Regions from separate parts of the Homo sapiens genome. Here all the other regions are reported to be linked to region 4. Evidence: microRNA targets listed by miRTarBase, many of them from high-throughput screens and not tested one by one. Region 4 holds a microRNA gene; each other region holds the end of a gene's coding sequence.

Region 1 (4,081 bases), not on the chromosome of region 4:
TAGGTTTAATCATGAGTTTTATCTTTAAAATTTGGGCTTGATTTAAAGTGCCAAAGAGATATTCCATCCAATTAGTATGGGAAAATGGCTAGTGGTTCAGAAACTTTTTAAAAGGAGTTAGTTTCAGAGTTTAAAAATTTGTTTTTTCCAGGTCATTAAATTTGACGGTGGAGAGGAAGTACTTATTTCAGGGGAATTCAACGACCTGAGAAAGGTAATGCTTTTGTGTGTATAATGTAATATCAGCAGCTAGGATACTAAGCTTTAAAAACATGTAAAAAGGACATTAAATTGACATCTTTTTTGTGTTAGGTCACCAAGGAGCAGTGGGACACCATAGAAGAACTCATCAGGAAGACAAAAGGTTCCTAAGACCACTTTGGCCTTCATCTTGGTTACAGAAAAGGGAATAGAAATGAAACAAATTATCTCTCATCTTTTGACTATTTCAAGTCTAATAAATTCTTAATTAACAAACATTCATTGAATATGTATTATGTGCCAGGCCAGTGATAGCCATTGTATATTCAAAGATAAATAAAATGAAATATAGTCCTTCAAAACATTAAAAAAAAAAAAAGGAGGCATGGGGAGAGTAGGTAAAGGCTCCTCTTTACCTATTGATAGAGGTAAAAAGTACTTAGAAGTGCAGAGAGAACAGATCTTTGTGACTTGGAAAATCAGGAGAAACTCAATGGTGGCGGTAGCATTTGAGTTACATAATATACTATACCTATATTAATAGGGCCTAAAAGAAAGAAATTAGAGGATACACACTAAATATAATAGACTTTGCCTTTCCAGTATACTTTCTTTTCACTGGACTTGTGAATTATCTTCTTTGGGTAACTCAGTATTAACTCAAACCTTTAATTTTTACTAGGACCTATTTGTAGCCAGGCATTTTATTTAGTACTGAATAAGCTATAGCCGTTGCCCTTTTTAAATTCATTATCTAGCAAGATAGTCAAACTTATAAATAATTATTTATGATACATTGTGATAAGTATTATTCCAGCAGTATTTAAGTGTAGAGGAGGAAGTAATTCATTCTGTCTCCAGAGTTTGGAGAATGTGATGCCTAAGAGATAGCATGCCATCCCAGCTGTAAAAGAAGAATAGATTTCTCTGGGTAAAAGAGGTAAAGAAAGCCTATAAAATATTTTTGTATATCATTTGATTAAATTTCATCTTTGGTTTGACTAATTTGTCATCCTGAAAATCAAATAATAATGAATCCAAAGTCTCAAGTCTACAGAGCTATACTTTTGAGCCTATATTTTTAAAATGTCCATTTTGCTTTCCCAGGAGTCAGTTACAACATGTTCACTAGACTGACTATCCCCATTGCCCAAGTTGACACAAGAGGAAACCAGCTTCCATCTTACCTCATCTGAATAAATCTGCCACAAGCCCATGGAAACCCCAATTAACATTGACAGTTAATTGTGTACATAAATTACATTTATTACATTTAATTGTGTATATATAGGGGATGTTATAGGTTTGGAATAAGTGGCCCAACATTTCCAATTATACTGACTTTCACTGGGCTTTTTTTTAGGCTGTTGCACTTTTTCTCCACATGCTTGCAATACAATACTCTCAAAATAAAACGCAGACAGGTACCTAGTCTCCATTTTACCTTTAGTACTAATCCTGTGTATTAGTCTGTTCTCATGCTGCTAATAAAGACATAACCCAAACTGGGTAATTTATAAAAGAAAGAGGTTTCATTGACTCATAGTTCAGCATGGCTAGGGAGGCCTCACAATCATGGCAGAAGGTGAGTGAGGAGCAAAGTCATGTCTTACGTGGTGGCACCCAAGAGAGCTTGTGCAGGGGAACTCCCATTTATAAAACCATCAGATCTCGTGAGACTTATTCACTATCACACTATTGTGTTGATATTGTGTTCACACACCAATAATGATGGTTTATCACTCACTCCATTTCCAAACCCACCTTCCCACCCACCTCTCACCAAACACACAAAGACACACTCTTTCCCTCCACTGATTCCACCAGTATAGCCATATTTCTCTTTCTGGTTAAATTTATACTAAATGTTTACATTTATATAACTTAATAAATATTATTTTTTTCCAGTGTTGTCTCAACCTTTTTTAAAAAAAAAATTCAGATTACATGATAAATCAGGTCCTTTTTTAGATAAATATTATTTTTAGTGTTCTATTGTTTTGATGTATCATTATTTAATTTATTGGGAATAGGGTTATTTATATTTATTGTTTTTATCTTTTTAAATTTTTATAGAGACAATGTCTTGCTATCTTTATCAGTCTGGTCTTGAACTTCAGATCTCAAGTGATCCTCCTGCGTTGGCCTCCCAAAGTGCTGGGGTTACAGGCATGAGCCACTGAGCCTGGCTGTTGAAAATTTTTTGTTTTTTAATGTTTTTCAAGAATGCTAATGCCTCCCTTGCCAATGCATTTTAAAATTATTATTAATATTACTTTTGATTGGCAAATCATAATTGAATTCATTTATGGGGTGCCCTGTACATTTAAGGGGTACAGTGTGATGTTTTGATATGTGTATACAATGTGGAATGATTAAATCAAGCTAATTAACATATCTATCACCTCTCTTACCTATTGGCCTTTATGGAGAGACATTTGAAATTTACTTTTATTAGTTATTTTTAAATATACAGTACATTATTATTGACTATAGTCACCCTGCAGTAGATCTTAAAACCTGTTCTTTCTATCTGAAATTTTGTATGCTTTGATCAGAAACCCCCTTCTTCCCACTCCCTCAACCTCTAGTAAACCATCGGTCTACTTTCTTTTCTTTTCTTTTTTTTTTTTTTTTGATATGGTGTCTCACTCTTGTTGCCCAAACTGGAGTGCAGTGGCATGATCTTGGCTCACCGCAGCCTCCACCTCCCGGGTTCAAGCGATTCTCCTGCCTCAGCCTCCTGAGTAGCTGGGATTATAGGTGCACGTCACCATGCCCGGCTAATTTTTCGTAGTTTTAGTAGAAACAAGGTTTCACCATGTTAGCCAGGCTGGTCTCGAACTCCTGACCTCAGGTGATCCGCCTGCCTAGGCCTCCCAAAGTGCTGGGATTACAGGCGTGAGCCACCGTGCCCGGCCAATCATCATTCTACTTTCTACTTCCATGAGTTCAACTTTATTTGATGCCATACATAAGTGAGATCACAGGTTACTTTTATTTTTCAGTATTATAAATAAAACTATGAACGTTTTTATGTATAACACATTTTTAGAATTTGGAATTTTTTCCTCATTTCTAGAAGTGGTATTATTAATCAAAGTTATGAAGCTTTTAAAGTTTTTTTGATATACATATCCAATTGTTATTCCAAAGATTTGTGTGAGTTTAAACCCCCCTGAGTAATGTGTGACACTGCCCGTTTCAACAAATAGCTGCCAACAATTAAAACTATTCACCAATTTTACACGTAACGAATGATAGTACCGTTAAAAACTTATTTTATTATTAGTGAGATTGAATACTTTTCTACACTTTTGAATTTCCTGTTTGTCTTTTTTACCTGTTGGTATCTTAATGGGGTATTGTAAAATTTTTGGTTTGTATGAGTTTGTATGCAATTTTTTCCTCTGTTAAAGACAAAAATAGTTCTTTTAATAGTTTCTTAGTCATCTATTACATCATTATTATGTGTTATTACAAATGGTTGATGAGAAAGCAAAGCTTGCAGCATGGCAGAGAGGATCAGAGAAGAGAGATCATGGAGATATTGACTAACAGATATTTTTTCCTGAGTCTGAAAGAGAAACAAACATTGTTTATGGGTAATCACTGTATTCTATGACAGACCACATGTGGGCTGTAACCACATCAATGTTCACCTTAAGAATTATTACTTTGTCACTCAATACCTTCTGTAAGAGTCCTGCTTCTATTGTACTAGTGGAAGAGTTAATACTCAGTAAATTAAAGATTATTGGTAACAATATCACTCATCTTACCATTAACATGTGAAACCACCTCCAGGAAATGTTTCAGGTATAGAGTGACAGCCATTGTTTCCTTATTGTTCTTGTGGAAACTAAAACAATAAGAATTT
Region 2 (4,076 bases), not on the chromosome of region 4:
CTGCTCCCTGTCTCAGCCCAGCCGCCTCTTCCCTCTTCTCTGGTTCCTTATGATACTCACTGTCTGTGCCTTCTTTTCCTCAGTCCTTCTCATTTAGTCTTGGGAGTCCCAACTTTTTTTTTTCAATATCTATTTAATACACTGCTAGTCATATAACAATACATACTGGATAACACTGCTAAGTTGGAAGTCATTTGCATTTATTAATTCAATCTCAATTTTTTAAGGTCCTTACGAAAATCGCACTGTCTTTGAGACTTTGGACATTGGCTGGCAGCTACTCCGAATCTTCCCCAAAGAAATGCTGAAGAGAATCCCTCAGAGCACCCTCAGCGAATTTTACCCTCGAGACTCTGCAAAGCATTAGCTGCTGCTTCTGCATTGCTCCGCGCTCTTGTGAAATACTGGTTCTGTTTTCTTTATTCCTTTTGCACTCTCGGTTCCCACCTTTGTGTTGGAGTTTACCATGTTACCCTGTAATTAAAAACAAAGAATAGGTAACATATTGTGCCAGTGTTGCAACGTTTTAAACTGCTAACAGACCTTAAAATATCCCCCTACCTGGGTCCTCAGTGCTATGTTTAAAGTGCTGCAGGGATGGAGTGGCGTTTTCTTATTGCTGTATGTATTGTACATAGTGGAGTAGTTAGTTACCTGATAACAGTCTTGTTATTTGGGTCTCTTAGACCTTACCTCTCAACTCCCTCAAGAGTACCAGTCTCTGAAGTTATAATGCTTTGGTCTCTACATTAGGGGCAAGATCCAGTCTGAGAGAAGTCTCCTTTGAGAAGGGCCAAGAGGCTCTTTCCTGAGTGTTTGCTTTCGGTTTGTTGGTATGCCTGTATTGCTGGGCTGTGCTGCTGCTCGAAGCAGATGGTTTTGACTGTCTTTTTGCTCTTTCCTATATAATGAATAGATGAGTGAAAGGAGTTTTCTTTTTCTCTTTAGTACTTACGTATTGGGATTCCTGTGTCTTACAGCTCTCCCTCTCCAAATAATACACAGAATCCTGCAACTTTTTGCACAGCTGGTATCTGTCTGGTAGCAGTGAGACCCCTTGTCTTGGTGATCCTTACTGGGTTTCCAAGCAGAGGAGTCACATGATTACAATTGCCAGTAGAGTTGTTGTTTGGGGTACAAGATGAGAAGAAAGAAAAACCTACAGCCTTTCTACATTCTGACATGCTAACAGTGGTTTAAGTTTCTAAAGTGTTTACCAGATGCTGAAGGCAAGGGGAGGGAGCAGAAGCACTTATGTTTACGGATATTTTAAACTCTGTTAGAGAGCAGCCTTTGAAAATCCCCAATTTGGTTCTGCTTTTTGACCTCTCTCTACCTTTTCAGGGTAATCTTTGTGGCACAAACGATAGCATTTCCAAGCTTTAGAGTTTTCTGAATTCCTGCGCCTTCCTGACGTGAGCCCTGAGCGATCTTCTATGCAGTTCTGCCATGCGTCCTGTTGGTCTCTCTGTGTTCTTTGTTACTTGGGTGCAATAGCAACTTCCCTACCCCGTGCATTCCATCTTTCATGTTGTGTAAAGTTCTTCACTTTTTTCTCTGAGGGCTGGGGGTTGGGGGAGTCAGCATGATTATATTTTAATGTAGAAAATGTGACATCTGGATATAAAATGAAAATAAATGTTAAATTAAATGGACCTTAACTAAAGTGACTCTCTATCTTCTAACGAGGAAAGCAACAAGCAAATATGTAATCACACATCTCTTCAATTCACAGCTCTGAGCATCATAACCAGGATTGGGAACCAGCCCTTGTGTTGCAGGGACATGGCTTCCACACTGCCCTTGTCATTCTTTTTGGTACTGTCCCTTACAGCATGCTGTAGTTTGATCCAGGGCTGAGCATTCCTACAGGTGCTCCCCAGCGTTCCTCATTTCAGGCCTAGTCAGGACCTCTAGAGCCCATCTGCTGTGAGCAAAAGAGGGTGCTAAATAGTGAAATACAGCTTGAAGCAAGCCAAAACCTGTTTCACATAAAATCTCACATGGATGTCCTGTATATATAGAAACCTGGTGAAAGCACAGGGCATGCTGTCATGGAGCCTCCCATTTCTCCCCACTCCAGTTCAAGGCAGCTTTCAGGAGATGGAGAGGAAAAAGCTTAATCATAAGAAGAACTGGGTAGACCTGAGTTCTCTTTCGGATTCTACCAGTACTATATGGCCTTGCTTAATCATTCAACAAATTCGAGTCTGCTTGTCTGCTTGTATGCCTTTTAGGGTTGTTGTAAGGACTGGAGATTTTTGTGTGTAAAACACTAGGACAGTGCCTGGTCCATAGCAGGCCACTGTTACTAGTAAACCTTTTTTAAGATGAATTTGCCTTATTACTGTTACATAATACTTAGGAATTGTTGGTTATATAGCACTCTTGTTAGTTTGTAACTTATTTTTTAGTGAAAACATTTTCTGAAGGAGCCTTTTTATACCAGAATAAGACCTAATGAAAAGACCTGCTACGAAGCCAAGTGTCCTCAAAGGTCAGGCTAACTAAAATGACTCATTCGGCATTTATTCTTGCAGTTGACTGCCACTTCATTGTGTAAGATTTCATGTAAGTGAAAAAATGTTTTCAGACTAATGTCATAAATACCTCGCTAAGATGTTTTATTTTCAGCAAGTGTGAGGGTACAAATCGTCTGAGGTCAACAAAGCATCCTCTGCTCTTGAAATTTTTTGTTACTATCATAAGGGCAAGTTAGCTTAATTCAGTATTAGGAGCCAACGGAAAATAGTTCCCCAGACTACATTTAAAATAGCATTTAGAGACTACAACAAGAAATACTTGGCAAGGCAGTTCTTGAGGGAAAATTATCCTTTGTGGGAAAACTTAAGAAGGAAGTGGGTTTTTTTAAAATGAAACAGTCATGTTCCTTACTCAGCTACCAACTGTAGTTTTATTTCAAGCCATTTTTCCAGTTTGGGGTTGAACACCTGCCTCACACTCAGGCAAACCTTGTGGTGTCCCCAGCTGCCCCCTCCTCCATATGAAGCCCTGCAGTGGTAACAAGGAGCGGGTGACTGATATTTGGAAACAATGAGAAATCACTTCCAGTCACTAATGGGTCACAGAGCTTTGTATCCTGAGCTAGTGGCAAAACTCGTCCAGAAAACTTAGTAAGTGTTTTTCAGACACGTGTGAAGGCTAGGAATTGTGGGACCCTCCCTGAACAGTCTGCCACATTTCTACTTAAGGGAAAAGCAAAGCATCTGACCATGGCTATCCCTGAGGCTGAGGCACACATGAACAATGCCTAGGTCTCCTTTGTAGGAGCCTGAGGGTGCCTAACCTAGAATCAAGCCCGTGGCTGTTTGCTGTGGTTAGCAGCTACAAGTAGTGCACATGTGATATGCCACTGTTCTCCACAGAATTTCATCTCTAAACTCCTAGAGCATTTTCTAAATCCAATAAATTACAGCGTTCCAGGTACCAGTGGTCATGTAGCCCTTTATCCACAGATGCAACTGGAAAATGACTCGTCCAGGGTCACAAGGGAATGGCAGAACACGAGCTGGAACCTGGGTCTTTAAGCGTGGGCTAGTGCTCTTCCCACAGCACAATGTTAACATCCAAAGGCCACTCCACACATCAAAATGGTCTTCACAAATGTCAATCTCGCTAGAAACCAGGATTTTGTATTGTGGCTAAAGTTCCATATCCTGGTGGACAGAATGGTAGCGTGAATGTAAACCAAAGGCCCTGACTGTCTGGACCTAGGAACTTCAGGGCTCACACTAAAAAGTTAAGCTTAGGGCTCACACTAAAATGTTAAGCTTTTAGGGGAAGGTAAGATGGGAATGTGTGTACAGACAATAGCCTCCAAATGCATCTAATTTCTTTTCTAAGCAGTCGTATTCTTCATTTCCACAAGAGGGCAGCAGCCCCTGAATGGTGTGGCAGTGGCTAAACACTGAGTTCTAGAAACAGACACTTCCGGATCAGTGACTGGCAGTCAACAGTTCACTGAATCAAATAGTGCTTTTTTTGGGGCTGCATGTTAGCCTGGGGACTGTAAGGGAACATGCTCTGATAAAAATAAACTGAAATCGGTGTAAGGA
Region 3 (4,081 bases), not on the chromosome of region 4:
TCCATGTTCCAGCAAGCCCCCCGGATGGCTCTGATGACCACTCAGGTTTGAGAACTGCTGCTTTAGGGTTGGCTCAGCTTAACCCTCAGCCTGCCTGTTTTTGTTTTTGGTTGGGAGAATGCTCCCCACGTGCAAAGTTTTGTTTGGTTTTTCTTCCCTTTTTAATTAACTCACATCCCAACCCTCACCCATGTTTGTCCTGCCTGCTTGGTCTCCCGACCTCTGAAGTACCGCTTGGTTTTCCTTTTTCCCTTCCAGGCGTTTCAGTTGGGCCCCACGGAAGCCTCTTACTACTGGGTGTACTGGGTTCCAACTCAATATGTGGATGCAATCAAAGACACTGTGCTGGGGAAATGGCAGTATTTTTGAAAGCACTTTCACCTCTGGCCCAGGAGACTGACCCAAAGTGAAGGACATTGCCGGGAGAGGCCTGCAGCATCCCTGGATTTCAGAGTTCTGGAACTTTGTTCATAAAAAATCTATATTCAATCTGAGGTGATGTGGTGACTGAAGCCAGAGGTGATGTACTTTCACCATTAGCTTAATTTTAACTTAAAATTACCAGTTCCCTTTCTTGCAGTCAGCTTCATACCATTTTTAAAGTCAATACGATGGAAATCAATAAATCTGAATTCCGAACATGTTGTGTGGAATACTCTTAAGTGTGTTTGAGAGTAGATCTGCCAATTATGTTGACAAGGGAATGATCAAAAGCTTTGTTTTTTTTAAAAAAAAAAAAAGCAGTTTCAATTGAAATATTTTCATACATCTTTGGTTGCAAACATTTGGACTGCATTGCAATGAGTTGGGGTGTTTTTTTTTTCCTTTTTTGTATAAAATTGTATGCAAAATGGGGGTGGGTTAGTAAGCCACATATTTCTGTCCATTGATTCAGATTTAATTCTTTCCCTTTTTCATTCTCTCGCTTCCTCAATTTGAGTTTTTGTTTTAAGAACCCAAAGATGTCAGTTCTTCTTTTGGTACCTCATCAACGCTTCCTTTCCTGGGCTCCCTCCCGCCGTGCTGCTGCTGCCTGTGAACGCACGGTGGGAGAGGAAGAGCTGCTCAGTCTTGGGCAAGGAGCTCTCACACTTGCTGTGGTGTTCGTTGAGCAGCAGAGTATCTCCCAGTGACTCCTGTTTAAATGTCTTGCCCTTTGGGCCCCCATCTCCAAGGAGTTCCATTGCTGGTTGGATGATTGTCTGCACCCCTCACTGAGCTTGGCCTAGAGGCCCAGCCTGGCATGGTTGTGCCTGGGCTGTGCCGCTCAACAGCCCCAGCTCCCAAGCAGACAAAGACCTCTTCCAGGAGGAGCCAGGTAGAAGATAGTTATACAGCCATATAGCTGCAGATCCAGATAACCTTCTTTCTTTGGAAGTTTTCAAGAAATTCTTAAGCAGTCCAAGGATGATTTCAATTATGCTTCTCCATTGGGTCCTTCTGCTCATGCATTCAGTTCAAGTGTCCTTTATCCCAGGTTCAGAGATGCTGCCTTTCTGAAGAAGACATCTGACCCTAGCAGGTTGGCCAGTGTTATTGAACAACAAAAATGGGATAAATTGCTTTCATGATTAGCTCACCTTCTTCTGGTTTTAGCCCTTCTGTTCTCTGTACACGTGAACTTCTGTCATCTCCTTCTGGCTTGGTTGCCTCTGAAAGGAGGGAAAGTCTCTTGGTAAATTATCTCTTTTGTGCTGTTTGCTGTTTCTCTGCTGCCGTCTTTGCAGTTCTCCTCTCACTGGTTGCAGGCTTTCATAGTAAGGTTTGGCGAGAAATGTTCCAAACATCACATTTTGGATTCTAGGCTGTCACCCCTCATTCTGTGAAACGTATTAGCATGTGTTCGCCCAAGATGACTATTCCTTGTGAGCCAGTTAATGATGATATTCTACGCCCTTCCCTTCTAAGCTGTAGTTCAGGAATCCAGCCCACATAGACAGACTCTTGCTTTCCATGGTGTAGTCAATGCCAAGTGATGCATCTAGGCAGGAAAATCTACTCTTTGCTTTTTTGGGGGCAATTAGTACATTTGTGAAGTGCAGCATCCAAGAAACAGCCTGTTTTTTCATCCCTTGAGAAAGGAGCAGTCATTGCAGCTTTTCTGTCCTTGTCGGCCTGCAGTTCCTGGGGAAAAGAGTACATCTGAGCTACTTGTCCAAGCCTCTGTCTGCAGGTGACAGGTTTTGGGGGAAATGAGATGCATTAAGTAGAACATCATCTCGGGTCAGACATTGCCCCTTTTGTTTGCCAATGCCCCAGTCCTAGAGACTTGTCCTGACAGTGCCGCACACCTACTTTTGATCTCTCAGAGCAGGTGGCTCCATCCCCAGACTAGCCTGGCTGCTCTCCGAGGCCCCTCCACCTGCTCCCCTTATTGCCCCATTCTTGTGGCTTGCCGGGCCACTTGGCCTCCCTTCTTGCCGGTGACAGCGTTCCATCATCTCCCCGCTCCCCAAGGGCCAACTGCTTCTCACTCAGGCTGGTGTCATTTCAGGAGGACCAAAGCCTGCGTGAGCCTTTTTATTTTCAGTAAAATGGTGCTTTTTTCCTTACTTCGAGATACTATATATAAATAATAATGTAAATGACACCTTTTCGTACGGAGCTGTTTGAGTATTGCTTTACAGAGCTCACTAAATCAGCTTCAACAATCTTGAGCTCTGTGGCTCCTCACCCTGTCTGCATGGAAGACCTTGCTGGACGCTCTCGGGAGAGCAGACATAGCACCAGAAGCCACTGGGAGAAGTGTTTTCGATCCGTGTCTGGGCCACAGTAGTATTCACTGTTTAGTCTTTGAGTTCCGTAAGCAGTCTCTTCATACATTTCTTACAGTCTGGAGTGTACTGACTAAATCTGTGTAAGCAAATTGAAATACTCTTTCTTTTAGGTAGCGTCACAGTGGTTTTTTTTTTCCTCAGGATAATTTCTATACAATTTCCTTACTGTCAGAGGGACCAGATCTTTCCCTCACTGTGGCAGGGGCCGTGCAGGTGGATAAAGGAAGAGCTGGTTTCCGGAGAGTGACTGTAACAGCGTTGACTCGAAGCTAGAGATGGAGGGGGTGGCCGTCTCTTAGACATTGGACACCTCTCAGAGCCTCCTGAGGGCTTCTTTGTCTTCTAGAATCTCTACCGGTGGTCCTCCTGCAGGTTCTGGCTCACAGACATCATCATGCCTTTTTTTCCCTCCCTGAGGCGCCTTGGCAGAAGAGCGTGACCCTGTGAGCCAGGCCCCCCTTAGCTCTGCTTCAGATCACAGAACACAGACAGACTCGCGAGTTGCTGGACCTCTTTGGTATTAAGTGTTTGAATCCATGGTGGGCCTTTTGCAAGTAGCGTTAGCTCTTTTTAAATGTTGAACTGAGCTAAGGATGCACTTTCTTGTGGACATAGAAGGGGCCCACGTAAGGCCCTGAGTAGGCTCCTTAGTTGCTGCTTTACCTGATGAGGGCCAAAGAGATTAACTCTGCCTCGTTGCCATGTCTCAGAAAAGTTGCCATATTTCACCCAGAAGGGGCTTGTTTTCCTCTTACTCTTACTTTAACCATGTGCCTGGAGGAGCCATTCTGGGCTCTTGCACTTGCCCAGCCTTTCTTTGCCAGGGGCAGAGAAGGGAAAGGGGGTAGATTGAGTGTGCCAAGGGCCGTGCAAGGGCAGGCTTGCTTTCCACCCATCTGCTGAGGGAGCCCTCTCCTCTCGCTCCTTGCCTCTGTTCACACCTGTTGTCTTGGAAGAGGATGGTCCCTTTGTCTTAAGGCTTTGTGATAAAGTCATCTCCAGTTAGGATCTGCACCTGTTTCCTTCGTAATAGTGCCTGGCGGCCTTTCTGAAGTTACAGGTGGTTGGGAGCCCTCTCGCATGCAGAACATCTGGTAGATTGATCTGCCAGGCTGGGTGGTTCTACTGCTTTCTCAATTTCTAAGAACCTTTTTTTTTTCTTAAAGAGTTCTGCTGAATTATTTGACAATATTTGTAAGTACCATGTTTCCTTGTGGTGTATGCTCTGTTCTGGTTTCTGTTTTCAAATCAAATGCCTGTTTGGGAGGAGATGAACGTATTTAGTCTATTAGATTTGCACTGCT
Region 4 (4,081 bases):
GTAAGTAAATTTCAGTCTAAGGGGAAATATGTAAACTAGGGGATCGAGGTGGCTTTTTAGGGGTGTAACTCGTTGTACTATCACTGGGAGAGATGAAAGGGGTTAGGGTGAAAGGTATAAATGAATTTGATTCCAAGAGCAATCTGGAAGGGACCTTCGCCTTTGACACCGATGCTGTTTCGAATGAACTTTTGTTTTTCTAAGTAGTCAACTAAGGAAATGTTAAATTAGGCATGACTTTAACTTCTGACATGATGGCTCGTATATTTGTGTGGAACAAAATGTTGGGAGAAAGTTGTGGAGTTTTACATGATAATTGTACATTTGCTAAACATGTTTTTTTTTTCTTTTTAAGGGCAGTCAACGACATTTTTCTCCATTAATCCCAAAGTCAGTGTAAAAGTTGTTTGTAAATATCATTGCCAAAACAAGATGGAATGTAGAGATACTTGATTGTCGCAATTTAGGGAATGGGGTTATTGTTACTAATGACTTTTTTTTTTTACCATGACATAGTGTATTTGTTACCACTGGATCTCAGTCTGGATGTTATAAATTCGATACTTAATCTTATTAAATACTCTGCACATTTTATTAACTAATAAATAGGACACTTAACATTCATTGTACTGGTTTTGAAAAACCGACTTAATTTGTAAGTGTAACAAGATACTTACAGTTGGATAATTTAAATGTCTATTACTTGTGCTGAAATGTATTTAACTTTCAAAACCATTACAGTTAGTGCTGATTTTGTTGTTTTAACTTTTAGGTTTGTGATTGAGGATTTCAGAGTGGGTTTTTTTTTTAATGCTTAATTGAATATTGTATTCAAACAAAAAGAGGGCATGCATGTGACTTGTTGCTAATATGTGTCCATTTTAAAAAGGAAAAAGTGGTATCTAATGAGTTAATCATTAAGGAGTATGCGCAGTGCCGGCCATTTCAGGACATGAAAGTTTCTGTGGAGCTGCTTGAAACAGGAAGGAGCGACTTGACATCAAGTATTTAAACTTTTTGATTTATGTTTTGATAGATGACATTGATAGGTATAAATTATAAATAAGTTTGAGTAACCAGTTTAATATGTAAACTGGTATTTCATCTACAGAAAGTTCTCTGTCATTGTTTGGAGCTCTTTAAAATAACTCAGCTGGGGTGTTTAAGAATAAAAACACTAGCAGTGAGTTAGGACATCTAATGCTTTTAAAGATAGATGTATATGTCGCAACGATAGTGTAAGAATCAGCTGAAGCTACCGGTGAGGTTTTGGTTATTTTCTTTCAGTCATCTGAGTCCATTTCCAATAAAGGTTGTTTTTTTGTTTCGTTTTTTGTTTTTTTTTAATGGGGACAATGAATGAGACTTGTAATATGCAGCAGGAAGAAGTTTCACCAAGACTTTGAAACTGGCAAGAATGATCCAGATGTCCAATTGCCTCTACTTAACCTTATTCGTCTACCTTCAGAAGTAATTAGATTCTCTTCCACACTAATTCGTATCCCCCATCGCTCTGCTTTTCACCCACTACGTTGTTCCAAGATTCATCCTCAGGGGAAAAAATTGAGAGCCACACTTTCGGCTCCACCTGCAGCTCCTGGAAATCAAATGGTGAAGTTATAAGAAGTACCTTAACTTGGAGTGAAGTGGCCTAGTCATAAGTTTTGCCCTATTCCTTGCCAGGGGGTGGGGCGGGGCTTCCTTCAGTCATCCAGTCTTTATTCACCCGCAGGTACCCCCAGATCGATCCCCCTTCATTGACTCCGAGGGGATACAGCAGCAATTCATGTTTTGAAGTGTTCTAAATGGTTCAAAACGTGAGGCGCTGCTATACCCCCTCGTGGGGAAGGTAGAAGGTGGGGTCTGCCGGACGCGTGTTCCTGCCACCAGGTGCCCGCTCCCCGCGAGGCCGGCTCAGGAGCAGGTAGGTGGGCGGGGGCTCGCGTCTCTGTTTCCGGCGGGTCCTCGCCCTTGTCCACGCAGCAGGGCTGTAGTCCGGGGAGGGCAGTATTCCTGGCTAGGCTGGGGCGCATAGGCGGTGCGAGTCGAGGAGAGACGCGGTGCCCGCGCTCAGCCGTGCCCTAGCAGCGGGAACAGTTCTGCAGTGAGCGATCGGTGCTCTGGGGTATTGTTTCCGCTGCCAGGGTAAGTCTGGGACTGCCGTTCGGGCCTACCCAGCAGGTAAGTCTTAGGCCATCGCCTGCGGTGTCGGCCCCGGGAGCAGCGAGACCCAAGATTGCATCAAACGTTTGCCCCGTCTCTGCATATGTGACTGGACGTGAATGATGCTTCATTTTGGCACCCCCTTTCCCTGCTCAGGTAGAATGTAAACAATTGAAAAAAATCCCTTCCCAATCAGAATACCACCCACAGGACAACGAAGAAAACCTATCTTCAGTCCCCACCCACGAAATGCTGGGGGGTGGGGAGGACTGGAAAAGGAGTAAGGGGAGAGGAAGGGTGAGCAGCTGCAAGAAGTCTTTACACCTCTCTGCGGTTCCTGGTAAACGCGCTCATGTCCTGGGTATGGAAGGGACTTAAGAATTCAGGAAAGATCAAAATAACGGGCCTCTTCCCCACTCCCTCGCCCTCCCTTCCCCGCTGCTGGGGGGTTAGGGAGGCTCCGTGGAGCTCCAGCACTCTAGAAGGATCGGGTGAGGCGCGAGGCCTTGCGGGCGGGTGAACCCAAGGTGGGGTGGAAGGCTCCAACCCGCCCAATCTGAGCCCGAGGCCTGCTGAGAAGCATGGGGGCCTTGGGATAGTTCCAGAATGAGGATGTGCGTTTCTAGCTGCTTTGCGCCCTCCTCCCCCAAAAATCTGCTACCACAATTCCAACCCGGCGGCACGCCCCCAAGACTCCTTTGTCGCCCCAGGGGCGGGACCTGAGCTGTCGATTTCAGGAGCCCTTCGTGACTTCAAAAGTCCTGGGCACTGTTGCTCATGAGTGCTGCACAACTGTCGCCCTCTAAAGCCACCTCCATCCCTCACTGGGCTGGCCTCCTGAGCCTTCGGTGAGGAAACGGGGTTCCGAGTTGCCCGCCTGAGAGCTTAACAGTCTGACTAGAAAAGGGCTAATTCGCTTTCTGTGCAAATCTCTTGAGCTAATTATTTAATCTGAAACATGGACAGGTAAAGGACCATTGGCGGGCGTGGGGAGGGAGGTGTGGAATCTTTCCCACACTTTTTGTCACCTTAAAGAAAAAAAAAAGACACCCAAACTCCTCTGGTCTGAATGGGCTGCCTGGAACTGGGCTTCCCGGGGCCAGGAGTGGGCCCCTAGAAGTTTCCCAGTTTGGGGTGGGGCCGGGGTTCCGAAGTCTAGAGCTGGGAGTCGGGTTCAGCGGCCCGAGACGCTGGCTCTCCCAGACTCCCTTGCGCCGGGGCAGTGCGCGGGGGCGGCTCGGGTCCCTCCCGGGCCGGCGGGGACCCTCAGGCTCCCGGGGCGCCGCCCACCAGCCCGACCCGGCGGCCTAGAAATCCCCATTCTGCTCCCGCCTCGCCCCGGCCGGCCAGCGCAGGGCCCCTCAGGCCCGCAATCTCCAGGCTCAAACGGCGAACAGGTCCCCGCATCCGCCTGCCTTTGCACTTGGGGGTGGGAGAGCCACCTTGTGACGCCCCTTCTGCCTCTCACCAGCTTCCCCCTTTCTCCCCGTCCTGTACGGTTCCCCCTGGAGCCAGAAGGAAGCCCGGTGCCAGCCAGCCTTCCTGAAAGACCAAGCCCGCGCCATCCGGCTTCCTCCAGTGGACGCCTGCAGGACCCAGGTGAGACACGGAACCGGTTGGGGACGCGAGCCAGGGATCCTGACCGGTTGGGGGCGGCGAGCAAGGGATCCTGACTTGGGGGCGTTGCCTCCCGGAATCCAAGCGGCCTTTTGCCCGGGTCTCCCGAGATGCATCGAAATTGAGCTCGTCCACACAGCCCCCTGACTGCGTGATGCCCTTTTCTGACTTAAAACATTCCTTGTACCTTTATTTACACGATCCAAGTTGCAGTGTGCCTAGATTTTCCTCCAAGGACAAAAATGTGAATAAAGCAATATTTTAGCCAAACATTTCTGTGTCAATTAAGAAGATTGCAATT
Region 5 (4,081 bases), not on the chromosome of region 4:
TCCGTCTCTTAAAAAAAAAAAAAAAAAAAAAACATATTCGGCTGGGTATGGTGGCTCACACCCGTAATTCCAGCATTTTGAGAGGCTGAAGCAGGCAGATTGCTTGAGCCCAGGAGTTCAAGACCACCCTGGGCCACATGGTGAAGCACCATCTCTACAAAAAATGTAGAAATTAATGGGGCATGGTGGTGCACGCCTGTGGTCTTATCTACTCACAAGGCTGAGGTGGGAGGATTGCTTGAGCCCAGGAGCCAGAGACCGCAGTGAGCCATTATCACACCACTGCATTTCAGCCGGGGCCACAAGTGAGACCGTGTCTCAAAAAAGAAAATGAGTATTGTTTACAGCAAGAACTGAAAATTGTTTTTAATCCTGTTAGTAGCATTAGAGAGATTAAGATACATTAACATATTTTGTCATTGGAATTCAGTGAAATACTGAAATGTTTTAAGAAAAATATATTTTTATTCTTTATAAAGTAGAAGCATGTTAATTGCTAAATACTTTCATTTTGAAATTGTGGAGTATTTATTATAGTTTTATTTTTACAGCTTTGCAAAAAACTGGGTGGCTCATGTGTTACAGCCCTGGATGGTTATTATGTGGAGTCCATTATTTGTGTTTTCATTGGATTTGGTTGGTGGTTCTTTCTTGGTCCAAAATTTAAAAAGTTACAGGATGAAGGATCATCTTCGTGGAAATGCAAAAGGAACAATTAATATATATGCTACTGGACATTCTAGCAAGGTAATTGTAGTTTAGTTTTAATTCGGAGAGCAATGATAATCAGTGCACAGGAGTATAAAATATTATTTTAAACAGCGAAATTAATAATATAAAATGCCAAATGGTTGAAAAAATAGAAACCTTTCTGTATATTTGATCATATTTTTTTTTTGCCTTGTCAATGTATTTAAAGTTTACTTAAGGTCAGGAAATTCTAAAACAACTTTTCTGGCCTTGTTATTTGATGTATATCTTTTAAATTTACTGACCAAAGCATGTTTTAAGCTGCAATGCAGTAGTCACGGGTGGTAACCATGTAGTCAGGTATTGTTATTAGTACCTATCACTGCTGAGCTGTATTTAAAATTTTGGTACAATATATAAAATGGAGAAGAGCTTGATATTCAGGTACTAACCACAACTAGTCTGACATTGTTGGCAGTTAAAATCTTATTTTGAATTGTAAATTAGTTAAATTTTATGTGGAATTTGCTGAGAAAAGAATATAGACTACTGAAATGTCATTTTAGTTATTTTTCTTATGACCACATTGTACAAATGAATCTGTGTTAAAAAGACTATTTTAAATGTATTTCCTGCTTTTGTAAGCATTAAAGATTTATAAGAAAATTATTCAAACTATTTTTTATAAAATGAAAGTTATGATTTTTAAACTTATTGATTCCTCTTGCCCCTACCCCCTCTTTTTGGAAGATATTTTGATTCCTTATAAACTTTTACCCTAAGCTTATATATGTTTTCTGTCACAAGTGCTTCCTGGCACACAGACAGCCAATGGAGGGGATCAAATTCAGTGTTGTATGTATGTTTATGGCAACATTTTGAAAATAAAAATTAAATGTTTTTCTTCAAGTAGTTTTTTTTTAATTGCTGAGAGAAAAAAACAGTAAAGCTTTCTGATTAAGTAAAATTTAAATGGGCAGTACCATAATTTAAAAAACTAATACTTTAAAGAGAGAGACAAAGATATTTTGTGCCTTTGACAAATTAAATCTAATAGTGGAAAAATGTTTCTTAATTAAGCACTTTACTAGTGAAAAAGATCTCACAATTTATGCCAAATCAGGTACTGTATTTTCATGTATTAACACATAACCTTTTGTTTGAATACTATAGTTTTCAGTGGACAGTTGCTATTCCAAGAAAATTAAGCTTTTGAGTACTTTAGCAATTCCCAGCGTATTACATACACCCAGTGATAAGGTTCTTTGCATGTTTTGTGTTATGTATTACTCTGACTCTTTAGAGATTATATAAATCCTCCAAAAGTTAGACGAAACAAGATAGTACATTATGAGTCTTAATTTTATCATTGTGGAAAAATGTGTACTAACTCCTGATTTTGTTAATTTTATAACATAGGTTGAATTTTAGAGTGGGGTTTTTATAAGTAATGGAGGATAAAATGGGTGGGAGAAAATGGCACACAGCACCTGAAGAAAGATGGGGCAGTGACCTCTAGAACTCATGCATTGCCATTGGAAAGCCTGTGTTGGGCATCGATGTCAGATCCTGAAGAATCACCTGGAAAAAATCCCATCCTAGAGGCAAGGAGGCTACACCAAACCATACACTACAGTACTTTGTCACATGGTTGTCCATTATCATGTATTAGAGTCTAAATGATTACTTGAATAAAGAAAAAAAACCACTTAACTCTTACATATGAAATGTGTTTTGATTTTTAATTTTTGGATTAAGAAACTCAGATTGCCATAATAACCTTTTATTTCTTCCCGTGTATATTATTACAAATTATATATACTTTCAAACATAGTTTTTTTTTTTTTTAATTGAGACAGAGTCTCACTTTGTCACCCAGGCTGGAGTACAGTGGTGCAATCTCGGCTCACTGCAACCTCTGCCTCCTGGGTTCAAGTGATTCTCCTGCCCCAGTCCTCTGAGTAGCTGGGACTACAGGCGCACACCACCACACCCGGCTAATTTTTGTATTTTTAGTAGAGATGGGGTTTCACCATGTTGGCCAGGCTGGTCTTGAACTCCTGACCTCAAGTGATCCACCCGCCTCGGCCTCCCAAAGTGCTGGGATTACAGGCATGAGCCACTGCGCCCAGCCTTCAAACATAGTTTTAATGTCAGTACATCTTTAATGACTTGAAGTTTTAAAACATTTTAAGCCTTTAAGGTGAAAGCCATTTAATTAATTTGCTCTAGAAATAAGCACAAAAAATTATAGTTAATTTGAATACATGTATGTAATGCATGTCAAAATAACTTGTTAATAGCTATGTGCAACTGTGTTGCATACATTGATCACTAATGGCATTTAAAAATGATCTGCCTAAATCTGAGGATCTGTTTATTATAAATCAGTAGTACTAAAATATACCACCCTGTTTTTATGTTGTGGGTGTTTTTCTTGATTGATTGATCCTGATAAATTAAACAGTACCTTCAAGTATGGACTTTTAACTCCTCCAGTTAATGCATCATATGTTTACTGGCTAATATTAGATTGAACATTTTTCTCTCTATGTCAGTATCTCCATATGCACATTGGTTGCCGCATATATACATCTGAGTTTGAAAAGTTCTTCTGAGATTACCTAAAAGTAACACCACAGATTCCTTCCATTGTAAATACTTTATTTTATTTTATTATTATTTTTTAGAGACATGGTCTCACTTTTGCCCAAGCTGGAGTACAGTGATGCAATCATAGCTCACTGCAGCCTCAAATTCCTAGGCTCAAGGGATCTTCCTTAGGCTGGATGCTGTGGCTCACACCTGTAATCACAACACTTTAGGAGGCCAAGGCAGGAGGATCACTTGAGGTCAAGAGTTCAAGACCAACCTGGTCAATATAATAAGAACCTGTCTTTATGACTTCTTTTTTTTTTTTAATTATCCAGGCATGGTGGTACACACCAGTAGTCCCAGCTACTTGGGAAGCTTAGGCGGGAGGGTTACTTGAACCCAGGAGGTCAAGGCTTCAGTAAGCAGTGATTGTGGTACTACATTCCTGTCTGGGTGACAGAGTGAGACCCTGTCTCAACAACAAAAAAGGATCTTTCCACCTCAGCCTCTCTGGTAGCTAGGACTACAGGCACACAGCACTATGCCCAGCTAATAAAAAATAATAATTTTTTATAGAGGTGGGGTCCGCTATATTTTCCAGGCTAGTCCCAATCTCATAGCTTCAAGCAGTCGTCCAGCCTTGACCTCTCAAAATGCTGGGATTACAGGTGTAAGCCACCGTGCCCTGCCCATGATAAATATTTTAATTTTGCCTGATAAGTCATAAAAAGTTTATTCAACACCTTAAATAGATTTCTCAATTTTTTAAAAATATTAAACCTTTGAAATCGAAAGT
Region 6 (4,081 bases), not on the chromosome of region 4:
AGCTTCTGCGTTGATTCTTCTTCCTCAGGTCTGTCTGACTTGTATTAATGCCAAGTGCATCACAGAGGAACATAAGACTCACACATTGGGATTTTGTTTACTTTTCATTTATTCACATTTCATGGATTGTTACACTTCCTCGATGGGAGCATTCAAAAACTAATACAAGCTGAGATTATATTGTCTGACAATTCAAGTATTTTAGTTTTAGAAAACAATTTCCTATTTAAAGTAAAAAGCAAACAATTTATCCATCTGATTGCTAAGAAGTTTTACATCTCCATTACAATTGTGTCTGCATCAAACGGAGAGTCCTTCGTCCTCAGTATGATTGTTACTGGCTGAGAACATACGGTGACCTGTGTTCTGAGTGCCTGCTTGGAAAAGACCTCCCTGTCATCTGCCATACTACGGGACAAATCAGTATCTACTCAAATTCCCACTTCCAGAATGAGAGGACTCATCAGGGGTTTAGGAGTTTGCAAAGCCTTCAAAATGTATCGTGCTTGAATTTTGACTCTTCTGAAATAGAATAACTGACAAATGCTCAAAAAACAAACTTGTTTAACTTTTACTGAAAAGGCTCTCAGTGAAAACTTGTTTTGAACTCTACTAGTAAGGTAGAATATTAGTTTTTCTTCCCCTCCACACCAGAAAAGGCAGTTTTCTCTTTTTTTTTTTTTTGGCATGCAGCATATATAAAATGTGATCTAGAATTGAAATTGTAAAACAGAATAATCCTCTTAAAGAAAATCAGCCTATGAACAGTCAGACTTGTCCTTCCATGGAAAACATAATCTAAACTTCTTTAAAAACTGGCCATATTTTTTCAGTCTGTAATTCGAATAATGAAGATGGCATAACAAATTTTTTTGCTTACTAGGAATGCGCAAAAGGATGAGATGGATACACAGGTTTTAAAAAAAAAAAAAAAAAGGCCACTGGGATATTTAGTATTTGTCCAGATGCAAAACAATTTCAGAATAACAAAATACACACCTTGCTTTAGGCCACGTATATGATACACTTCATAGATTCTCAAACAAAAGATGAAAATTTCAGTCCACATTAAACATTTTAAAGCATAACTTCTAATATTTTGTTAAAAATAAGTCAAACTAAACGCATAAATCAGAATTACCTGTTAACATAGTGGGGAAAGTAGGGAAGCCCTCCAGGGGCCCCGTGCCCCAAGTAAAAGACAAGGAGTTAAATTTTACAATGAAATCCACGTATACTCAGGCTCTTTACACTAATAATCAAAGTGGAGACCAACCAGTTCCTAAAGCATAAAAGAGTGATTTTAAGAAAATATCACATTTTGAGTTACGGTATATTCATCACATTTTTCCCTGTAATTTTCACTTTAACAGTGATAGTCTTAGCAGCAAAAATTTGCTGGGAATGTTAGGAAAAAAGGAAGCCACACATACCTACTAATTTAAAAATATATAAACTATTTTTTACAGAAGGGCAGGTTTAAAAGAAAATCCAATCATGATCTTTTCATGCCATTTTTTGTCAACTTTCCATACACACGCAGACGCTAACAAAGTACTGTGTCATATACACTGAAGTGTCCTGAAGATGCCTGTGAGCTGCTGATTCCAGCTGGTACCAGGGAAGCATGTGTGGCTAAGTTGCAACAAACTTAAATTTGTTCCCCTTAGTTCTTCATCTTTTTAAAAGCTGAATAAACTTAATGTCAATCGGGTGGGGCCGGTATTAACAGCATCAACCGCTTGCTTACTATGAATCATCCGCAACAGAAACCCACGTGCATTCTCCATTCTTAAAAAGTCAGTGTAAAACTAACGGCCACTTCCTCCCTAGGTGCCTACTATCGCTATGTCTGACAGCATCTGTAACAGGACAAGCTCACCTCTCTCTACACGGATTCATCCAAAGCCACACACTAGGCCAAATTCTCCCAGTGGAATCAAAACACTGGAAGTAGAGCAAGAACCTCATGCCAACATTGGCCCAATCACACCTCAGTGACTTAGGAGTTCATCATATTTGATCATAAAATTGCTCCCGGCGCCAAACCTTACACCTAAAGACTGTAGTTTTAAAAAGCCACTGTACCGTCCACAATTATTCTGACCACTCTTTTCTAAATGGAGAATGTGCTACGCACTGAAGATCAGAACACACACGCGGGAGCCCTTGGGCACTGACCCTGAGCCTGTACACAAGATCAGCTGGTACTAGTCTCAAATGATTCATGAGGACTCAGTGGAAATTTAAACATTCAATTCTGTGTATCATTCATGTGCCCAGAGTCTTCAAAGAATGCTCGTGTTAGTTACCTGACACCTCTGGAGAAGTGACAGGGATATTCGTGTGAATAACCATGGCTCCCTTCCAGACAGACATATGGAATCTTACTCTTAAAAAAGTAAAGATATTTCAGATATCAAATGTATTATAATATACTGCGGTCTAAAGTTAAAGGCAAAGTTTACACACGATTTTCTCTTCCATGACTTTATTACATGTTTCCTAGTGAATTCACACGGCTCGTGTGTCAAAGCTCCCAGGCACGTCACTTGGTCACAGTTTTCATGTGCGTGGGGTTGATCATGGTACAAATGCCTATGCGCATCTTTTTCTCGGATGGTCTCATTTGACTTTCATTTCGTAAGGGTTCACTCTCCATGGTGTAGATGATAAGCTACCACATTTGTGCTTTTAAACCCATTCCTGGCAATCCCCCTTTATCTTCATTTTGTCTTTAGGGGGATAAAGAAGTAACACTACCTCATGAATAGAAACTATGAAGCCAAAAAACTCCTTCACAAGCTGTTCATTTCTTTTTAGAATGAAAATGCAGGTCCTGAATTCTCGTGAAGCAGCCCACAGGGTTACAGGCCAATGATTCGAACGCTGAGGTGAACACTTAGTACTCGCATTTGAGCTTCAAAGTAAAAATAAAGCAGAGGACAAACGCCTGTCACAGCGTGGCAGCCCGGTTCATTTGGTAACAGAACAAGTCTCACACGTCGGCTGAGCCCACCGGAGAGAAGCACACAGGCCAGCTTCCTTCTGAACACAGCCAGGCACCTGTTCAAAAGCCTCTCTCGTGGTGGCGGTGGACCCCAAAACCCACGGGTTGGAAGAGCCTTTGGGAAAGCAAATTGATACCCTGATTGCAGTCCTTGAAGAAATCACTTAGGGTTAGTTTAATAAACGAACATTAAAAAATCTTCCAAAAATTGCATTCAAATGTATTTTACACTTTAGGCAGTTCTTAAGAAGGGAGAGTGCAGTTTCTTGACACTTAACATTTAAAGGTTTTATTGGCCACATTAATCTTCCTCACAAAAGTTTTAAGTTATCTATAAGTTCTTAGAATGTCAAAGAAGAGAAGAAAAACTGACTAACTTTAAGGGGCGGTGGAAGCAGCAGCAACTTGGCAATAATTCTGCAGCCGACTTTGCGTGTTCAGGCATCCTTTTTCTCCAGTAAAATTTTGTGCAACTCGTCTGCATCCTCGCTGGTTTTTACCCGAATCAACATGGTGACTGGCATGGTGGCATTCTTCTCGTCAATTGGTGGATTTGGAACACAGACGATAAGAACGTTATTCTTCCCTGTTCGCGTACATGGCATATTGGGTGGAATCAGAACGTTCAGCAATATGTTGCCTGCATTCAAACAAACAAAACCCATCAAAATTATAGAAGCTATAGCTCCACCAAAGGAGTCTGTAATATGCTAAACATTAAATGCTGAAATAACTTAATACATCTAAGACAGGGAGCCAACAGGACAGCACAAAATCAGGACTGGTTCCCTGAGAACTGGGAGGCCTCGGGGAGCACTTGCCCTCACTGTGAGGAGTGGCCTTCCGTCCTCCCTCCAGCCCGGGTCTCTGCACCCACACAGCGTTTCTCTCAGAGCCAGCAGCCTCGCTCAGAACCGTCAGCCCTCTCAACACTGTCCGTCTTTGCACTGAAGGAAGAACACGGTGGCACAACCCAGTGTCTTCACTGCGCCACACGGACAAAGGACACCTCTGTCACAGGCCGGCACAGCTCCCTGGGCAAAAGTGACACGACCATGTTATTACTCCCTA
Region 7 (4,000 bases), not on the chromosome of region 4:
ACATTGTAGATCCAAATGAGGTAGGTTTTAAAAATCAACAATAAAAGATGTAACATCTAATGCAATTATTTTAGTAAAAATGAACATTTTGTATTCTAAAGATAGACTCAACATAATAAGTGATAACAGAGGAAACTTAAGAACCTTTAACCTGTTTTTTCCCCCCCCCTTCAAGAATGTTGAAGGTATCCACCTTTCCTGGGAACCTCCAACCTCACCTTCTGGAAATATTTTGGAATATTCAGCCTACTTGGCTATCCGCACAGCACAGATACAAGATAATCCAAGTCAACTTGTGTTCATGAGGATTTATTGTGGTCTTAAGACATCATGTATAGTAACTGCTGGGCAACTTGCAAATGCACATATTGATTATACATCCAGGCCTGCCATTGTGTTCAGGATATCAGCAAAGAATGAAAAGGGATATGGACCAGCTACACAAGTTCGGTGGCTTCAAGGTAACAATAAGAAAGCACCTTTAAATTGAATTGGTTTTTTTACTGAAGCTATTGTGATGATGATTATTTATTAGTAACTGGTTATGAAGATTTGTCATTTAAAAGAGTATTCTCTGGCTGTATTTCCAGCAGTTATGAACTTGAGTTTGTAAATTGTTCTTAAAATGTATTTGCTGAATTATAGATCCAAATAAAAGAAAAGAAGCAAAGACTCTCTGAAAATTAGTATATGAGTTCTTCCTTACAGATATAGCTCTTTTATAAAGAAAAACAGTGAAATTAAGATAAAAGCTAGAAAGCTTTATTACCCCAATATCTTTTATAAGGGCTGTGTAACCCAGTCATCCTAGAGTTATTGAGATGATTCTGGTAACTGGCTGTTGTATACTATGCTGTCTTATATAGTAAATGTTCTCTACATTGTAAATGTCCTACCTTTGAGTACTCCTTCTATCTTTATTCTATATGAGCAGTGTTCCTCTAACAACTGTCTTCTATTGGATAATATGTGTGATACTATAATAATTCTAATAGTTATTTGATTCCTTTCTTTGTTTACAGTTAGCACAGAGCTTAAGAAATTAAAAAAGAGGCAAGTTTAGAAACTGCTTTTGAACTTTTATTATTTTCCAAGAATCATGGTAAAATACAACAAGAACAATGAGTTTTCTTGATTCTTACCAGGCCAATATATTTGAATATATTTTTGGCCAAAGCACTTAACTTATCTGGCCCTCATTTTCCTCATAACAGATGAGGGAGTTAAAGCAGTTTATCTTTTAGGTCCCTTTCAGCACTAAGGTTTTGTGTTTTTAGTAGAAGTGAAGTATGTCCCTGAACATTTTCATCTGTCTTAATGGCTCTAATTTTGCTTTTGCTAAAATTAAAATCTTCATAATTGAATTCAAAATTAAAGTATATGTCCTCCTATTGGAGAAAAAAACAAGCACCTTAACAGGACACAAGTTTTAAAATAGTGTTTTAAACATTTGTAAGATTTTTGTAAATGCTCTAAATGTTTTATTTTTGCATTGTTTTTACCTTGAAATTGTATAAACTTTTTTACTATGAAAATATAAGCATTAGACAGCTAACTCAGGTTCCATTACAACCTTAAAGATACAGATAGGCATTATAAACACTCTGCTACAGGTAACTTGTTTTAAACCTTTTAGGAATTTCATGGTTCCACTGCCTATTTAAATCTGGAATTAATATACAGAGCAATAATTGCAGAAAAGATATTTCAAACTAAGAGCTTCAATAACTGCAGGGGCACAGGTCTATCTTTTTTTATACCACATAACCTTATGCCAGTTTAGGTTGACTGAGTAGCTATGTCCTCAAATTTCATGTATGATACCCCCCAGCAAAGATGGATTTAATTGTGCAGAATTGATATATATGTGTGTTCCAGTTACTAATTTAAAGTGTATAGAATATTTTAATATATAATTTTTGTAAAGAACTGGGATTTTTATACTACAGTATTTGTAATTAATGTGTCTCACTAATTAAGTTTCTCTTGAAGAAAATATGCAAATTGTTAGACACATAATGAGTGGTTTCCAAACTCTAAAGATAAAATAAATGCACTACTATGGTGTTGTTAGAATACCTTTTTTGTGGCTGTATGAATCTTTACTCTTTAAATGTGTACTTTACAATGTTTACAAGGAGCTTCTCTGGTTTGTTATCCCAGCAATGCCCTTGGTGAGAGCTTCATTCTGCATTTGTTTAATTCATATGCTTTGCTTTTGGCATATGCTTGCTTTTTGCACTAGTAGAATTTTAACTTACCTCATTATTATGTTTGTAATCATTTGTCTAGCTTCTGTAATGTATCTGATATAGGCTAAACAAATACTTAACCAAAGTTAAAATACATGGTAAGCAATTTTGCACATATTAAATATTAGGGTTTGTTGTGTATATGTGTATACTTAATTATAAAAGAATATGAATGGAAAGTTATACTAAAAGTATATGTTTCAAGCCCAGTTATTTTAAAGATCTATTGCTTTAATAGAAAAAGTTTGGCTTTTAACCCTTTCTTCTCTGCATTAATTAACAACGTGCATCTTGAAGCCCTTCTCCTGATAACAAGGAATAAGTTGATTTTAAGCAAAGGATAGAATATTTGTTTGAGTGTGCACATTTATACCTGTTTAGTATTTGATTCAGTTAAGCCTCCACTCTTCTGGATCAGGAGGTGATTCTGAACCTGTGGTTCTAACATATGACTTAACTGTTTAGAGGGAAGAGAAGTCTTTCTATACTGAGGGATTTGTTAAAATCATAAATGTTTTTGCCCTGAGACTTAGCCCAGATTCTATTTTTTTTTTTTTTTTGGCATTTGTACATTAAGCACCAGTCATATTTATCTCTGTGATAAGGGATTGCTGACTAAAAAATGCCATTAAGAAATCTCTGTGGCTTTGACATTAGTAGTTAATAAGAGATCTTAGAGCTGTGTGCTGATGAATAGAATGAATTGGAGCAAATAGCAAGAGAAGTGCATTTAGCTTCTTATGATTTGCACATTTTCTAAATGAAGATCCCTTTGTGTAGCAGTAGGCTGTATCATGCAGATATTTTTCATAGGATTTGCACTGAGTTAAATGACTTTCTTTACTCTTCCCAGTCAGGTAAGCAGTTCAAATATAACAAGACTTTGTGCCAGTCCTCTTCTGTGTTCTGCAACTCTGGCTCTCATAAGTAGTAAAAATATTTTTGATGTTGCATGCTCTCAGAATTATGTTTTCTAAAATATCATATTGGCTTCATTTTAGTTTAATAAACTTCTTTGGCAACTTAATTAGACATAGGGTATATATAAACTCAATTTTATCTGCATTTTTTAAAAAATTGAAATAATCTGATTGCATGTATGAAGGACTCCTGCCTCATTACCCAATTACATAAATACAATTATCTATAGGAAGGTGAAATTGTTGATCTATTATTTCAAAGACTTGTAGACTAGCAAAGATTCATTCTGATTAGAAATAAGGTCTATAGCTAAAGATATTTTTATTTTAAAAAATTACAGCCCTTGTAACAAAAATCATTTGTAACATTGGATATGAAGACATTATTAGTATTTAAAATTATTGTAGTCATTTGATCATAAATGAAGTAGCTTGCAAAATAGACTTGGTCTTTGACCCTTTAAGGTGTAACTGACTGACTGTTGTGTTTTTCAAGACTGATTTTAGGCAGTTTTATGTATCGTGTACCAATGATATGTAAAATAAAGCACCTTTTCTACTATAAACAATTACAGGTGTTATTTATTTTGAAGGATATGAAAGAAAAGTTAGTGATGGCAGAGTAAATCTGTAGAAATGTTGATTTTATATTTAAAATAACATTATGTAAACATATTAAACATATATTAACATGTTTAATAATTAATATTTAATAATTAACAAGTTTAATAATTGTTAAACATATATTTAAAAGGCTGCCTGTATTGTTTGAAATAATATAGGCAGCCTTTAAATTAAGAATGGATTGTGTTTAAAAACTTGTTTTTA

The links. The annotated mature microRNA hsa-miR-503-5p reads UAGCAGCGGGAACAGUUCUGCAG and lies in region 4 at 2,083-2,105, shown strand. An mRNA with a match to its seed (bases 2 to 7 or 8) in the 3' UTR can be bound and repressed. Matches are read on the target gene's strand: a 7mer-m8 pairs with bases 2 to 8, a 7mer-A1 pairs with bases 2 to 7 and ends in A, and an 8mer does both.
Region 1: miRTarBase lists DECR1 as a target of hsa-miR-503-5p. Seed matches in the 3' UTR shown: 7mer-A1 at 1,682-1,688.
Region 2: miRTarBase lists ATP6V1B2 as a target of hsa-miR-503-5p. The part of its 3' UTR that is shown has no 7-base or 8-base seed match.
Region 3: the mRNA of UBFD1 is a reported target of hsa-miR-503-5p. The part of its 3' UTR that is shown has no 7-base or 8-base seed match.
Region 5: miRTarBase lists SLC33A1 as a target of hsa-miR-503-5p. The part of its 3' UTR that is shown has no 7-base or 8-base seed match.
Region 6: the mRNA of NUP50 is a reported target of hsa-miR-503-5p. Seed matches in the 3' UTR shown: 7mer-A1 at 1,383-1,389.
Region 7: miRTarBase lists HCFC2 as a target of hsa-miR-503-5p. The part of its 3' UTR that is shown has no 7-base or 8-base seed match.

What each region holds. Positions count from the first base shown.
Region 1 is chr8:90,051,526-90,055,606 of GRCh38, forward strand. DECR1 (2,4-dienoyl-CoA reductase 1) reads left to right here. Exons shown (of 10, transcript NM_001359.2): 9 at 152-214; 10 at 313-2,108. The coding sequence ends at 372. Among named protein-coding and RNA genes, the nearest start is that of CALB1, 29 kb to the right of the region's middle.
Region 2 is chr8:20,220,036-20,224,111 of GRCh38, forward strand. It overlaps ATP6V1B2 (ATPase H+ transporting V1 subunit B2), which reads left to right. Exons shown (of 14, transcript NM_001693.4): 14 at 228-1,661. The coding sequence ends at 367. Among named protein-coding and RNA genes, the nearest start is that of ATP6V1B2, 25 kb to the left of the region's middle.
Region 3 is chr16:23,570,222-23,574,302 of GRCh38, forward strand. UBFD1 (ubiquitin family domain containing 1) reads left to right here. Exons shown (of 7, transcript NM_019116.3): 7 at 259-4,081. The coding sequence ends at 369. Among named protein-coding and RNA genes, the nearest start is that of UBFD1, 15 kb to the left of the region's middle.
Region 4 is chrX:134,544,395-134,548,475 of GRCh38, reverse strand. MIR503 (microRNA 503) reads left to right here and starts at 2,078; the gene lies at 2,078-2,148. It overlaps MIR503HG (MIR503 host gene), which reads left to right and starts at 1,846. Exons shown (of 3, transcript NR_024607.1): 1 at 1,846-1,924; 2 at 3,679-3,762. MIR424 (microRNA 424) reads left to right here and starts at 1,765; the gene lies at 1,765-1,862.
Region 5 is chr3:155,824,848-155,828,928 of GRCh38, reverse strand. It overlaps SLC33A1 (solute carrier family 33 member 1), which reads left to right. Exons shown (of 6, transcript NM_004733.4): 6 at 552-4,081. The coding sequence ends at 719. Among named protein-coding and RNA genes, the nearest start is that of C3orf33, 21 kb to the right of the region's middle.
Region 6 is chr22:45,184,022-45,188,102 of GRCh38, reverse strand. It overlaps NUP50 (nucleoporin 50), which reads right to left. Exons shown (of 8, transcript NM_007172.4): 8 at 86-3,650. The coding sequence ends at 3,448. All of the region lies in intron 3 of LOC105373064 (a long non-coding RNA gene), which reads left to right. Among named protein-coding and RNA genes, the nearest start is that of MIR1249, 15 kb to the left of the region's middle.
Region 7 is chr12:104,102,784-104,106,783 of GRCh38, forward strand. HCFC2 (host cell factor C2) reads left to right here. Exons shown (of 15, transcript NM_013320.3): 15 at 176-3,741. The coding sequence ends at 490. Among named protein-coding and RNA genes, the nearest start is that of NFYB, 33 kb to the right of the region's middle.